Linked DNA regions of Homo sapiens: all the other regions are linked to region 3. The links come from fine-mapping of genetic effects on gene expression. A gene starts in region 3. Each other region holds a variant in brackets. All regions are shown on one strand. Distances are from middle to middle. Region 1 overlaps CASTOR2 (cytosolic arginine sensor for mTORC1 subunit 2). Region 2 overlaps RCC1L (RCC1 like). Region 3 holds the start of RCC1L (RCC1 like).

The links. PIP is the estimated chance that this variant, and not a neighbour inherited with it, causes the effect.
Region 1: its variant is fine-mapped to the expression of RCC1L in whole blood (INTERVAL, PIP above 0.99).
Region 2: its variant is fine-mapped to the expression of RCC1L in whole blood (INTERVAL, PIP 0.96).

Annotation. Positions count from the first base shown.
Region 1 is chr7:75,021,908-75,026,087 of GRCh38, forward strand. CASTOR2 (cytosolic arginine sensor for mTORC1 subunit 2) reads left to right here. Exons shown (of 9, transcript NM_001145064.3): 7 at 1-49; 8 at 2,533-2,627; 9 at 2,727-4,180. The coding sequence ends at 2,792. Among named protein-coding and RNA genes, the nearest start is that of RCC1L, 50 kb to the right of the region's middle. The variant A/G (reference allele first, on the strand shown) is at 2,501.
Region 2 is chr7:75,039,653-75,043,844 of GRCh38, forward strand. It overlaps RCC1L (RCC1 like), which reads right to left. Exons shown (of 11, transcript NM_030798.5): 11 at 2,531-3,457. The coding sequence ends at 3,380. Among named protein-coding and RNA genes, the nearest start is that of RCC1L, 32 kb to the right of the region's middle. The variant A/G (reference allele first, on the strand shown) is at 1,643.
Region 3 is chr7:75,071,562-75,075,753 of GRCh38, forward strand. RCC1L (RCC1 like) reads right to left here and starts at 2,241. Exons shown (of 11, transcript NM_030798.5): 1 at 1,853-2,241. The coding sequence starts at 2,176. RefSeq lists a silencer at 1,927-2,146.

The DNA of each region.
Region 1 (4,180 bases), 50 kb before region 3:
GGAGAGCTCTGGAAGATGGTCCGGATTGGAGGACAGCCCCTGGGGTTTGGTGAGTCCTGGGGGGATTACATGGGGAATTGAGGGAGCTGGCATTGCTGAGCCCATTCACATACGTTGTCCGCAGTGACTCGGCCCCTGCTGGGGGGTACAGATGGGGAGACTGAGGCTTGGGGAGCCTGAAATTTCTGTTGCTCACTGGTGTGTGGCAGCTGTACACAGGCCTCTTGGGGAAGTGCGGAGCAGGCTTCAATCGGAGTGCTTTTATTTTGCCCCCTCTTGAAATTTAATATGTTGCTTATTATTAGAAAATTAAGCAGCTGGGCGCGGTGGCTCGTGCTTGTAATCCCAGCACTTTGGGAGGCCGAGGTGGAAAGATCCATTGAGCCCAGGAGTTCTGTACCAGCCTGGGAAACATAGCGAGGCCCTGTCTCTACCAAAATTTTTAAAATTAGCTGGGCATGGTGGCTGGCGCCTGTAATCCCAGCTACTCAGGAGGCTGAGGCAGGAGGATTACTTGAGCCTAAGAGTTCAAGGCTACAGTGAGCCATGATCATGCCATTGTACTCCAACCTGGGTGACAGAGCAAATCTTTGCCTCTAAAAATAAAAAAAGAGGCTGGGCGAGTTAGCTCGTGCCTGTAATCCCAGGTCTTTGGGAGGCCGATGCAGGTGGATCACCTGAGGTCAGGAGTACCAGCCTGGCCAATATGACGAAACCCCATGTCTACTAACAATACAAAAAATTGGCCAGGCACAGTGGCGTGCGCCTGTAATCCCAGCTACTCAGGAGGCTGAGATGGGAGAATCGCTTGAACCCAGGAAGCAGAGGTTGCGATGAGCCAAGATCGCTCCATTGCACTCCTGCCTGGGCAACAGAGCAAGACTCTGTCTCAAAAAATAATAATAAATTTAATTTAAAAAAGAATAAATTGGGGCTGTGATAAAAATTAAAGAGAAAAAAAATCACTCCTTATTTCCACAGCTCAAAGATAATAACTGCTGGCAATTTTTTAACATGTTTTCTTCACGTAAATACATGTAATTGTCACATATCTCCCAGAGAGTCTGACACCCAACACTTTACTCCTAAATGCCTCGCCTTTTCCATCCTGGGAAGAAGCACCGGGCAAGGTGGCTTACGCCTGTAATCCCAGCACTTTGGGAGGCCGAGGCAGGAGGATCACAAGGTCAGGAGATCGAGATCATCCTGGCTAACACAGCAAAACCCTGTCTCTACTAAAAATACAAAAAATTAGCCGGTCGTGGTGGCAGGCGCCTGTAGTCCCAGCTACTTGGGAGGCTGAGGCAGGAGAATGGCATGAACCTGGGAGGCGGAGCTTGCAGCAAGCCGAGATGGCGCCACTGCACTCCAGCCTGGGCGACAGAGCGAGAGTCCACCTCAAAAAAAGAAAAAAAAAAGAAGAAACACTTTCTCCTATATAACCACAATGACAGGATTCCACAGGAGAAAATTTTCAGTCATTCCCTAAGACTTAGTCTTTCCTCTGTTTCCACAGTTGTCCAGACAACGTCTTTGGTGGATAGCATTTTTTTTTTCTTTTTGTTTTTTGTTTTTTTTTTTTTTGAGACCGGATCTTGCTCTGTTGCCCAGGCTGAAGTGCAATGGCGCAGTCTTCGCCTCCTGGGTTCAGCCTCCCAAGTAGCTGGGACTATAGGCACGTGCCACCACGCCCGGCTAATTCTTGTAGTTTTAGTAGAGATGGGGTTTCACCATGTTGGCCAGGCTGGTCTCGAACTCCTGACCTCAAGTGATCCACCCGCCTCGGCCTCCCAAAGTGCTGGGATTACAGGCGTGAGCCACCACTCCCAGCCAAGGTGCCACACTTTTAAATAGCCAGATCTCGTGAGGACTTACTGTCACGAGAACAGTACCAAGAGGATGAGGCTAAACCATTCATGAGGAATCCACCCTCATAATCCAGTCATCTTGCACCAGGCCCCACCTCCAATACTTGAGATTACAATTGGAGGATTTGGGCAGGAACACAAAGCCAAACTATTTCACTGGCCAGCGACCAGAGAAGGCTCCTGGTTGGGGGACATCTGGGTTAAGCCTTCAAGAGGGATGGCCAGTGGGAGGCCAGGCACGGTGGCTCACGCCTGTAATTCCAGCACTTTGGGATGTGGAGGTGGGTGGATCATTTGAGTACAGCAGTTCGATACCAGCCTGGCCAACATGGTGAAACCCCATCTCTACTAAAAATACAAAAAAATTAGCTGGGCATGGTGGTACACGCCTATAATCCCAGCTATTTGGGAGGCTGAGGCACGAGGATTGCTTGAACTCAGGAGGTGGAGGTTGTAGTGAAGTGAGCTCACGCCAGTGCACTCCAGCCTGGGCGATGGAGCGAGACTCCATCTCAAAAAAAATAAAAGGGATAGCAGATGGGAATTCTCTAGGAGGATGGTGGGTGCAGGGTAGGCATTGCCCACAGAGGGTAGAGGCTGAAGAGCCACACAGGCAAGGGTAGCCAGGTTAC[A/G]CAGAGGCTAAGGACGGTCTCTCCTGTTCTAGATGAGTGTGGCATCGTGGCCCAGATCTCAGAGCCCTTGGCTGCTGCAGACATCCCAGCCTACTACATCAGTACTTTCAAGTTTGATCATGCACTTGTGAGTGTCCAGCGCCAGACCCCTCCAGGGCAGGGCCGGGGTGGGGAAGCAGGTTCCTGGGCTCACGGGCAGGCATCTGCCTCCTCTACCCCTGCACAGGTCCCCGAAGAGAACATCAATGGTGTCATCAGTGCCCTGAAGGTCAGCCAAGCAGAGAAGCACTAGAAGGGTCTCTTCTGCTCCTCCCTGCCGCCGCCCGGGCCCAGCCCTAACCCTGAAGATTGATCTTGCAGTATTTCTCTACAGACTGGAAAATCAGCCTGGGGACCCTGAGGAAGGGGCCTCTGTGGGAGACTCCCTCGATTGCCAATCCCTCCAGGGCAGGGGCCCACGCCAAGGCCTCTCCATGCCCTCCTGCCTTCCCGGAGCCCCCCGACCCTCCAGAGAACGACCTTTCTCTTCCCTACCTCCCCCACCCCGGAAAATGCTTTCGGAGGCCCAGGGAGCTTGTGAGCTGATCCGCCTTCTCATCCGGCCTCACCCACGGCCAGGGGCAGATGCCGAGGGAAGCCGGTCCCTCCTGCGAGACACCGGTGTGCCAGCTGTCATGTCACCTTGCAGGGCTGGGGCTGGCGGGGTGGGGCCGAGTTTGGGGTGCCCTGGAGGGTTTGGGGGTGAGTACTGTGGTCACTGGTCTCTGCTTCCATCAGCTCAGGGCTGGTTCCCTCGGAGTGGAGGCCAGCGTGGCCCCCTCAGGTCATCGGGGCTGGTGAGGCTCAGACAGGAACCCAGGTGGGATCCCCGAGCTGGGAAGGACCCAGACTCCCCCTGTACCTCGCCTGCCAACCACAGGGCCTGGGCCCGACTCCCAGCAAGACTGCCAAGAGGGCCCTGTCCAGACCCTCCCCCACAAGCACTCAGTCCTTGGGGGAGGAGGGAGGGTCCCAGGAGACCCACCAGCCTGGAGCACCAGCTCCTGTCCCCTCGGCTCTCCCTGGACCCGACTTGGGCAGGTAGAGCCTCAGCTTCCCCCAGTAGGGACATCCCTGGCTTTCCAGGCCTGAGGTTTCTTAGGTGGTGTCCCACCTCCCCAACAGACAACTAGACCAGCATAGGACTCCCCGCCGTCCTCCTCCCTCCTCTGCCCCCAAGTCACCTGCCTGCCCACCCGCCCCTTGGCTGGGGGCTGTGGCATTCATGAGTACTTGACCCAGGAGGCAGCTTAACTGAGCCTTAATAGAGAAAACCATACTTTGTTTTAGTTTTTTATTTAATGTATTTGCACCCAGGGTGCTCTTGGCGGTAGTTTCTGTTTGGCAGGGATAGGACCTGTTTGAGTTCTGTCAAGGGAGCCTGGAGGCTCTGTGTCACTAAGCTGGTGCTCTGTGGCTCCAGGGACAGGCAGTGGGAATCGGGAGATGTCACAGGAGCCTGGGCCCTCTCTTCTGAAGGGAAGCTAGGAGCAGAGATCTGTTACAAGACGCTGGAGCCGCTGGCACCCCACATGGGAACTCCCACCAACCAGCTGTAGTTCTATCTGAGCACCGGAGGGGGTGAGGGAACCCGAGGGCCATGGGGAGGTGGACAGCCAGGTGGCAGGCCAGCTGAGTGGT
Region 2 (4,192 bases), 32 kb before region 3:
CTGGACACGCTACGTCTTCCACCCGGGTGCCTCTCTGACCTTGGTTACTGACCCCATCAGAGAGAAAGGGACAGAGTTGGTGTGTATGGAGAATGGCCTGGGGACACATGGGGTTGGTACAAGGCTCACTCCATCGCGGGTGCCATTCACGTGCTCACTAAAGCGAGAGGAGACGGGAGCTTGCAAACACTGATTTTTTGCAGGAACACGATGATCAAGCCTAGCAACCGAGCTAATGGCATAGTAGGGTTTCTATGGACGTGTGTGTCAAATGCTGGGGTTGGGGGAGGGGCGGCATTAGGGAAAGAGAGGACAGACGCTGAGATGCAGGCACAGGTGACAGCTGGGGAGAAGGCTTGGTCCACAGCAGAAGAGCTCCAACCAGGAGCCCTCGTGACCCACAGAAGGCACAGCCAAGCAGCCCTCCTGGGCAGACAGAGCCCAGCTGGAAGAAAGAAAAGACAAACCGAAGGACGTCCCTGCTTCTACACTGCTTGCTATGTCCAAAGTCAAGATCATTACTGGGGCTGGACCTGGTGGCTCACGCCTGTCATCCCAGCACTTTTGGAGGCCGAGGTGGGCGGATCTCTGGAGGTCAGGAGTTCGAGACCAGCCTGGCCAACATAACAAAATTCCGTCTCTACTAAAAATACAAAAATTAGCCGGGCGTGGTAGTGCATGCCTCTAGGCCCGGCTACTCGGGAGGCTAAGGCAAGAGAATTGCTTGAACCCAGGAGGCGGAGGTTGCAGTGAGCTGAGATCATGCCACTGCACTCCAGCCTGGGCAACAGAGAGAGACTCTGTCTCAAACAAACAAACAAAAAAGATCATTACTAGATCTGTATCTTGGTTGCCATTAGGGTGGGAGGTTTATTAAAAACTCACCTTCTCCAGAGACCCTCCATCCCCCATCCTCACCTGCCATCCCGAACCCCGCCCAGTGTGACCCGGGTCTGACCTCCAGGGGCACTTACCATCTCTAGATCAATACGTGAGTTTGATCTAGGCTTGAGTTTCACTGAGGTCGGATTACCCTGCTTCACTGCAGAGGCGACTTTAGACCCAGCCCCAGTAACGGTTTCAGGAAGGAAAAATGACACACGGTTTTCAATTTCTATTTCAAGTTTATGAGAAAATTTGACTGTAATAAACCTAAGAATGGGGTTCGCAGCCCAGGTGAAGGGCCCCTCCCCTAGATATCTGAGTGGCTGGTTCTCATGGCCGCAGGTCACAGCAAGGACACTGCTGGCTGGGTGACCATTCCACTTTAAAGTGCAGCTCTAGGCCGGGCACGGTGGCTCACGCCTGTAATCCCAGCACTTTGGGAGGCCAAGGTGAGCGGATCACCTGAGGTCAGGAGTTCGAGAACAGCCTGGCCAACACGGCAAAACCCCATCTCTACTAAAAATACAAAAATTAACTGGGTGTGGTGGCAGGCACCTATAATCCCAGCTACTCGGGAGGCTGAGATAGAATTGCTTGAACCGGGAGGCGGAGGTTGCAGTGAGCCGAGATCGCGCCACTGCACTCCAGCCTGGGCGACAGAGCGAGACTCCATCTCATAACTAACTAACTAACTAACTAACTAAATAAATAAAGGGTAGCCCTCCCGAGATCCCATCCTCTCCTCCTGCTTTCTCTC[A/G]ACGGCCCACAGAACCACTTCATATGCTGCTTCTCATTTTTCCCGTTTCCCTCCCTAGAATGTAAGCTTCACGGTGCGGGGATTTTTGTCACCACATGCCCCAGCATGAGGACAGTACTGGGCACCGATGGGGCACATGACAAGTATCTGTTGTGAACGCATTAAAGGAACGAGGTAAAGGCAGACAGGGCATGGGAGTCCAGCCTGTGACATGAGTACCAAGTATTTTCTCCCAACTGAACTGCGGGAGTAGAATCTGTTCAGAAAATATTTGTCAAGTATGGCTGGGTGCGGTGGCTCACACCTGTAATCCCAGCACTTTGGGGGACCGAGGCAGGCAGATCGTCTGAGGTCAGGAGTTCAAGACCAGCCTGGCCAACGTGGTGAAACCCCATCTCTACTAAAAATACAGAAAACAAATTAGCTGGGTGTGGTGGCGCACACTTGTAGTCGCAGCTACTCGGGAGGCTGAGGCAGGAGAATAATTTGAACCCAGGGGGTGGAGGTTGCAGTGAGCTGAGATCATGTTGCTGCACTCCAGCCTGGGCAACAAAGCAAGACTCTGTCTCAAAAAAAAAAAAAAAAAAAGAAAAGAAAAAGAAAATATTTGTCGAGTAGGACTGTCTTCTAAACTATTTTTCAGTTGAGCACGGTAGCTCACACCTATAATCCTAGCACTCTGGGAGGCCTAAGCAGGAGGATGGCTTGAGGCCAGGGGTTGGAGCCTAAGCAACATAGCAAGACCTTGTCTCTATAAAAAAATAAAATAAAAAGACCTCATCTCTATAAAAGTATTTTTCACTGGCTTCTGCCTCTGTATCAAAAGGCTTGTTTATAAAAGCAAAACTCTAAATGATCAAGTAAGATTTAAGAAGATCTCTTCAGAGCTTAAAAACCAAAAGGCAGAAAATAGACTTTATTCCAAGACAGATTTGTAAAAGATGTTTTTAAAGGGAAAGGCAAGTCACGCTACTAAATCAAACATTGTTCACAATTTCTGGATCTTCCTCCTCCGCCTGGCACTGCAGCTGAGCCTTGGCGGATATGCTCGGGGCCCTCGGCGCAGAGGAACTTGGCCTCGATTCTCTTCCTGAGGGGCTTCTTAACTTTTCCAAGCCAGGCAGTGAGCGTGGTGGGAGGCTGGGGCTGGTGCCTGCGGACAGCTCCAGATGGAATCCCAGGCCACGGTGCTTCTAGTGTCCCCCCAGCGAGCTTGCGGTGTGGCAGGCGGCCAGGAAGGGCCATGAGCAGGGTGGCCTGAATGAAAACCGAGGGCCGAAGCCAGCCTGACTCCCTCGCCTAAGCTGGGGCTCGGTCCGAGGCACACGCATGGCCTTGGCCAGACACAAACCAAGAGACTGCCATGACAGACAGAGCAGAAACCTCCCGAGCACTGTGTTCAAGCTAAGCTTTCCTAAGACGGGCTTCTCAGGCGAGACGTGACACCAGACACCGTCGCATGTTACTTGGAGAGAACAGAGACGTGCGGGCCACAGCGGCCCACCAAAGGCTGCCATCCAAGCTGAGTTCCGCAGGCCTCACCTGCAGCTGGAGAGGGACCTTGCCCTGATCCTCCTGGTAGGTACCCGCTAAGGGATTCAGGACAGAGCGTCACACTGCACGCAGGGTCCTCCGCCACCACCATCCAAGAACCCCGGGGGGCTGGCCACGCGCTGGCCTCTGCCAAGGAGTGCCAGTGGTTCCCGGGACGGGGCCGCCCAAGCAGGTGAGGGAGGTTTAGATGAATGACTTGGCCAGGGTCACCATGTGGTCCACGCCACATGCCACGTCCACAGGCTCCCCAGGCATCGTCACCTGAAAAATAAGATCCAGCATACCATGGGTGGGGGTGGCGCACCCGGAGGAGACAGGCGCTGGTGTTGGCCGACCCGGCCCTGCCTCTCAGTAGGAGACTCAGTAGGAGACAGCTTGTCTCAGCAGGAGACAGCTTGTCTCAGTAGGAGACAGCTTCTCTGAGCCTCGGCTCCCTACCCTCTGGGAATGGGGGCACTTAGGCCTCCCCAGCAGGTCCATCAGGACAACTGCGTGTGGTCATGAGGACAAGGCCATCCCAACTCCCTCCAGTCAATGGCAGCCATCACCATTCACATCAGCCTGAGAGGGCATGTCGGGCAGGAACATGGGCCTGTGTGCATCCCTGGAACCTGCACGCCCTACAGGGGCTGCTCCCCTCTGACCCTAACCCCACTAGGCTCCATGCCCCCAGGCCAGGTGTTCAGAGATCTCTCCTGGGAGCCACTGCTATGGCTCACTAAGAAGCTCCAGGGGCTGGGCGCTGTAGCTCACGCCCATAATCTCAGCACTTTGGGAGGCCAAGGCAGGCGGATCACGTGAGGTCAGAAGTTTGAGACCAGCCAGGCGTGGTGGCAGGCGCCTGTAATCCCAGCTACTCGGGAGGCTGAGGTGGGAGAATTGCTTGAACCCAGGAGGTAGAGGCTGCAGTGAGCCAAGATTGCACCACTACACTCCAGCCTGGGTGACAGAGCGAGACTCTGTCTCAAAAACAAGCTCCAGAAACCCTGTCTCTTG
Region 3 (4,192 bases):
CCTGGGAGGCAGAGGTTGCAGTGAGCCAAGATGGCGCCACTGCATTCCAGCCTGGGTGACAGAATAAGACTCTGTCTCAAAAACAAAACAAAACAAAACAAAACAAAAAACACCACCATCTCTTAGCGCGGTAGGTAAGTTGACAGATCTCCTTAGTTTTGAATCCTGGCCCCATCCTTACCAACTGTGTGATCTGAGATAGATTACTTTACCTCTATATCTGTTTCTCCTTCTCTAAAAAGTAAAGATGATAATAGTACCATCTCTCTCACTAAGCTGTTGTGAAGACTAAACGAGTTAATATAGCTAAAGCCCTTATAGGGAATAGTACCCATCTCAAGGTAAGAGCTATATTTTGAGCCTAGGCAACAAAGTGACAACCTGTCTCTATGAAAAAATCAAAATTTAAGCTTGGTCCCAGCTACATGGGAGGCTGAAGCAGGAGGATCACTTGAATCCAGGAGGTCGAGGCTGCAGTGACCCATGATCACGCCACTGTACTCCAGCCTGGGCAACAGAGCCAGATCAAAAAAAAAAAACAAACCTATATTTTGTACTCTATTTTGTATTTTAAATTTATACATATACATATACATATACATATATATATATATATATATATATATATATGGAGAGAGAGAGAGACAGAGAGATGAGTTCTCACTGTGTTACCCAGGCTGGTCTCAAACTCTTGAACTCAAATGATCCTCCTGCCTTGGCCTCCCAAAGTGCTGAAATTACAGGCATGAGCTACCGCACCTGGCCTATATTGTATGCTTTTTGTTGTTGTTGTTTAGTTTTTGTTATTGCTTTTGTTATTATATTTTCTATTTCTTATTGCTGTTAGCAGTAGTATAAGGCAGATGAGAAAGTGTGGCTTCTAAAGGTTGAGTAACTTGACTGCATGCTTTTCACTGACACTACACCGTTACGTACTCAGGCTATTACCATGAAAAGGAAAACTCAGTACTACAGCTACTGTGAATTTAACACAGTGACAACCCCAAGGTCTTTGTTGGGTGTTTTAACTACACTCTCATCAATCCTCCCTTCACTGACCCGATGAGAAAACCGGGGCTTCCAGTGAGGTTGGATATAGACCAAAGATGGTTTGATTTTAAAATCAATCCTCTTTCAGCCAGGCACAGTGGCTCACGCCTGTAATCCCAGCACTTTGGGAGGCCAAGGCGGGCGGATCGCTTGAGTTCAGTTCAAGACCAGTCTAGCAAACATGGCGAAACCCCATCTCTACTAAAAATACAAAAATTTGCCGGGCTAGGTGGCAGGACGATCTCTTGAGCCCAGGAGGTCGAGGCTGCAGTGAGCTATGATGACACCACTGCACTCCAGCCTGAGCGACAGAGCGAGACCCTGTCTCTAAAAAATAAATTAAAACAAAAAAATCCCCTTTCTGAGTTGTTCATTGAAACACCTCAGCTGGTATACATTTTCAATGGACTTTTGAATTTTGCTTTCCTAACATCAGAACTCCTGCAGTCACGCTGGCCTGAGTGAGAATTCCACCGCATATAAACAGCTAGCAGCGGTGGGGCCTCGGGCCTCAACCTCTCTGGGCCTCCCCTTCCTTCCCTGTAATTGGGAATAACTGTCGACTCACTGGGTGCTAAGCGAATGACACGACCCGGCACAACATCTGGCACTGCCACCCAATAAATGTTGATGGCCACCCCTAACGCCTTCCCCTCCTGGGCTTGCAGCCAGCTCGAGGGTCGTCCTGCCGGAAGTCTGTCCACCCAGAGGAGCCAACTTCTTGAAGAGAGCCGAACAGGTCGAGGGAGGCCGGGAGCGCGGAAGAGAGAGAAGGAGAGAAGGAGGAAGCCGCGGCCTGCACCTTTTGGTCCAGCTCCAGGCGATAGGGCACGGGCTGGATCCTGCGGCGCGGTCGGGCGCCGGCGCGGGGCCCGGGCCCGGAGCTGGGCACCACAAAGGAAGGCACGCCCAGCGCCCCCGAGAAGCTGAAGCCCCACACGAAGACGCGATCGGCGCGGGCAGCGCGCTCGCCCACGTACTGGACCACGGGCACCTCCGCCTCGGCTTCTGCCGCTTCGCGCCGGCTCCGGGAGCGCCCGGCCGCCGTCCAGTGCCCTCGCCCCAGCCCCGGCCCGCTCAGCCGCCGCCCCAGCCGAGCCCCAGCCACCAACGCCACCAGCGCCATCCTCCGTTCCGCGCCTCAGCAGCCTCTGGGCGCCGCCATCTTGCGTGACCCTTAACACCAGTCCTCGCCGGAAGAGGCTACGGCCACTTTTACTCCTGGTTGAAGGCAAAGGCGCTGACGGCAGCCCAAGGCTCAGGGAGGCGTGGCGTGGCGATGGTGAGGGGCGGGGTTAGGGGCGGGATTAGGATTCTTGTCCCTTAGCGAAACTGCGTGTCCTGTTTTGCTCCCTTGCTATTGCCCCGCGACATTTCTTACCTGGCCTTGCTGCAGCCGTCTCCGCTCCGGTCTGCTCCCACGCCGCCCCAGGCCGTCCTCCAGCGACAGCGAGCTGGAGTGGACGATTCCCTGCTGCCTTCGCATCCCCTGCCCAGGTCCCCTCAAACCTATCGACAGGCTCACTGCAACCTCCCCCTCCTGGGTTCAAGTGACTCTCGTGTCTCAGCCTCCCGAGTAGCTGGGACCACAGGCGTACGCCACCACGCCCGGCTAATTTTTGTATTTTTAGTAGAGACAGGGTTTCACGATGTTGGCCAGGTTGGTTTTGAACTCCTGACCTCCAGTGATCCACCCACCTCGGCCTCCCAAAGTGCTGGGATTACAGGCATAAGCCACCGCCCCCAGCCTGTGCAGGCCTGTTTTATGGAAGATGACTGGGGAAAACCCACTAATAAAATGTGGTGACCACAAGACTGCTCATGGAAAGCCTCTTACTACAGGGAGTAAAATTCATGAAGGCACTGAAACCACCAGTCTCCCGGGCTATGAAATGTATTCTCTGCGGCGGACCCAGTCTTCCAGCACTTTGGAAGACAAAGGTGGGAGAATCACTTGAGAGTTCGAGACCAGCCTGGGCAAATAGTGGGACCCTTTCTCTACAAAAAAATTTAAAAATTAGCTCGGCGTGATGGTGTGCACCTGTGGTGCCAGCTACTTAGGAGACTGAGGCAGGTGGATGGCTTAAGCCCAGGAGTTCGAGGCTGCAGTGAGCCATGATTGCACCACTGCACTCCAGCCAGGACAGCAGAGTGAGACCCTGTCTCTGAAAAAAAAAAAAATTAAATTAAATGTAAATATAAAAGTAAAAATAAATGTGTCTATGGACCCGCCTGGTAGTAAGTTCCCTGCCACCATTTGGGATAGATAAACTTAGCCATTCACATCGGTCCCCTTACCCTGTCTCGACCCAGCCAGTATTCAATCAGAACACACACTGTTTGCCACATGGAATTGTAGATGCTAGTGCCACCTTCAAAGATGTAAAAGATTCAGAGGGGTGGTGATTCCTATCCAATGGGTAGCTCCCCATTGAGTTCACCTGTTTGGCTCCTAAAAAAACTGATGGATTGGCCAGGCATAGTGGCTCACACCTGTAATCCCAGCATTTTGGGAGGGCAAGGCAGGCACATCACGAGGTCAAGAGATGGAGACCATCCTGGCCAACATAGTAAAACCCCATTTCTACTGAAAATACAAAAATTAGCTGGGCGTGGTGGAACGCACTGTAGTCTCAGCTACTTGGGAGGCTGAGGCAGGAGAATAGCTTGAACCCGGGAGGCGGAGGTTGCAGTGAGCCGAGATCGCACCACTGCACTCCAGCCTGGCGACAGAGCGAGGCTCCGTCTCAAAAAATAAAAAAAGATGGACTGTGGTAGGGGACAGGGGACCACCATACATTTAGGCAAGTGCATGGTCCAACTCATAGCTGCTGTGTCAAGCGTGCCGTCTGTTTTTTTGTTCGTTTGTTTGTTTTTTGAGACAGAGTCTCAGTCTATCACCCAGGCTTGAGTACGGTGACATGATCTCGACTCACTGCAACCTCCGCCTCCTGGGTTCAAGCAATTCTCCTGCCTCAGCCTCCCAAGTAGTTGGGATTACAGGCGTGCACAACCACACCCGGTTAATTTTTTGTATTTTTAGTAGAGACGGAATTTCACCATGGTGGCCATGACTGGTCCCCAACTCCTGACCTCAGGTGATCTGCCCGCCTCCACCTCCCAAAGTGCTGAGATTACAGGC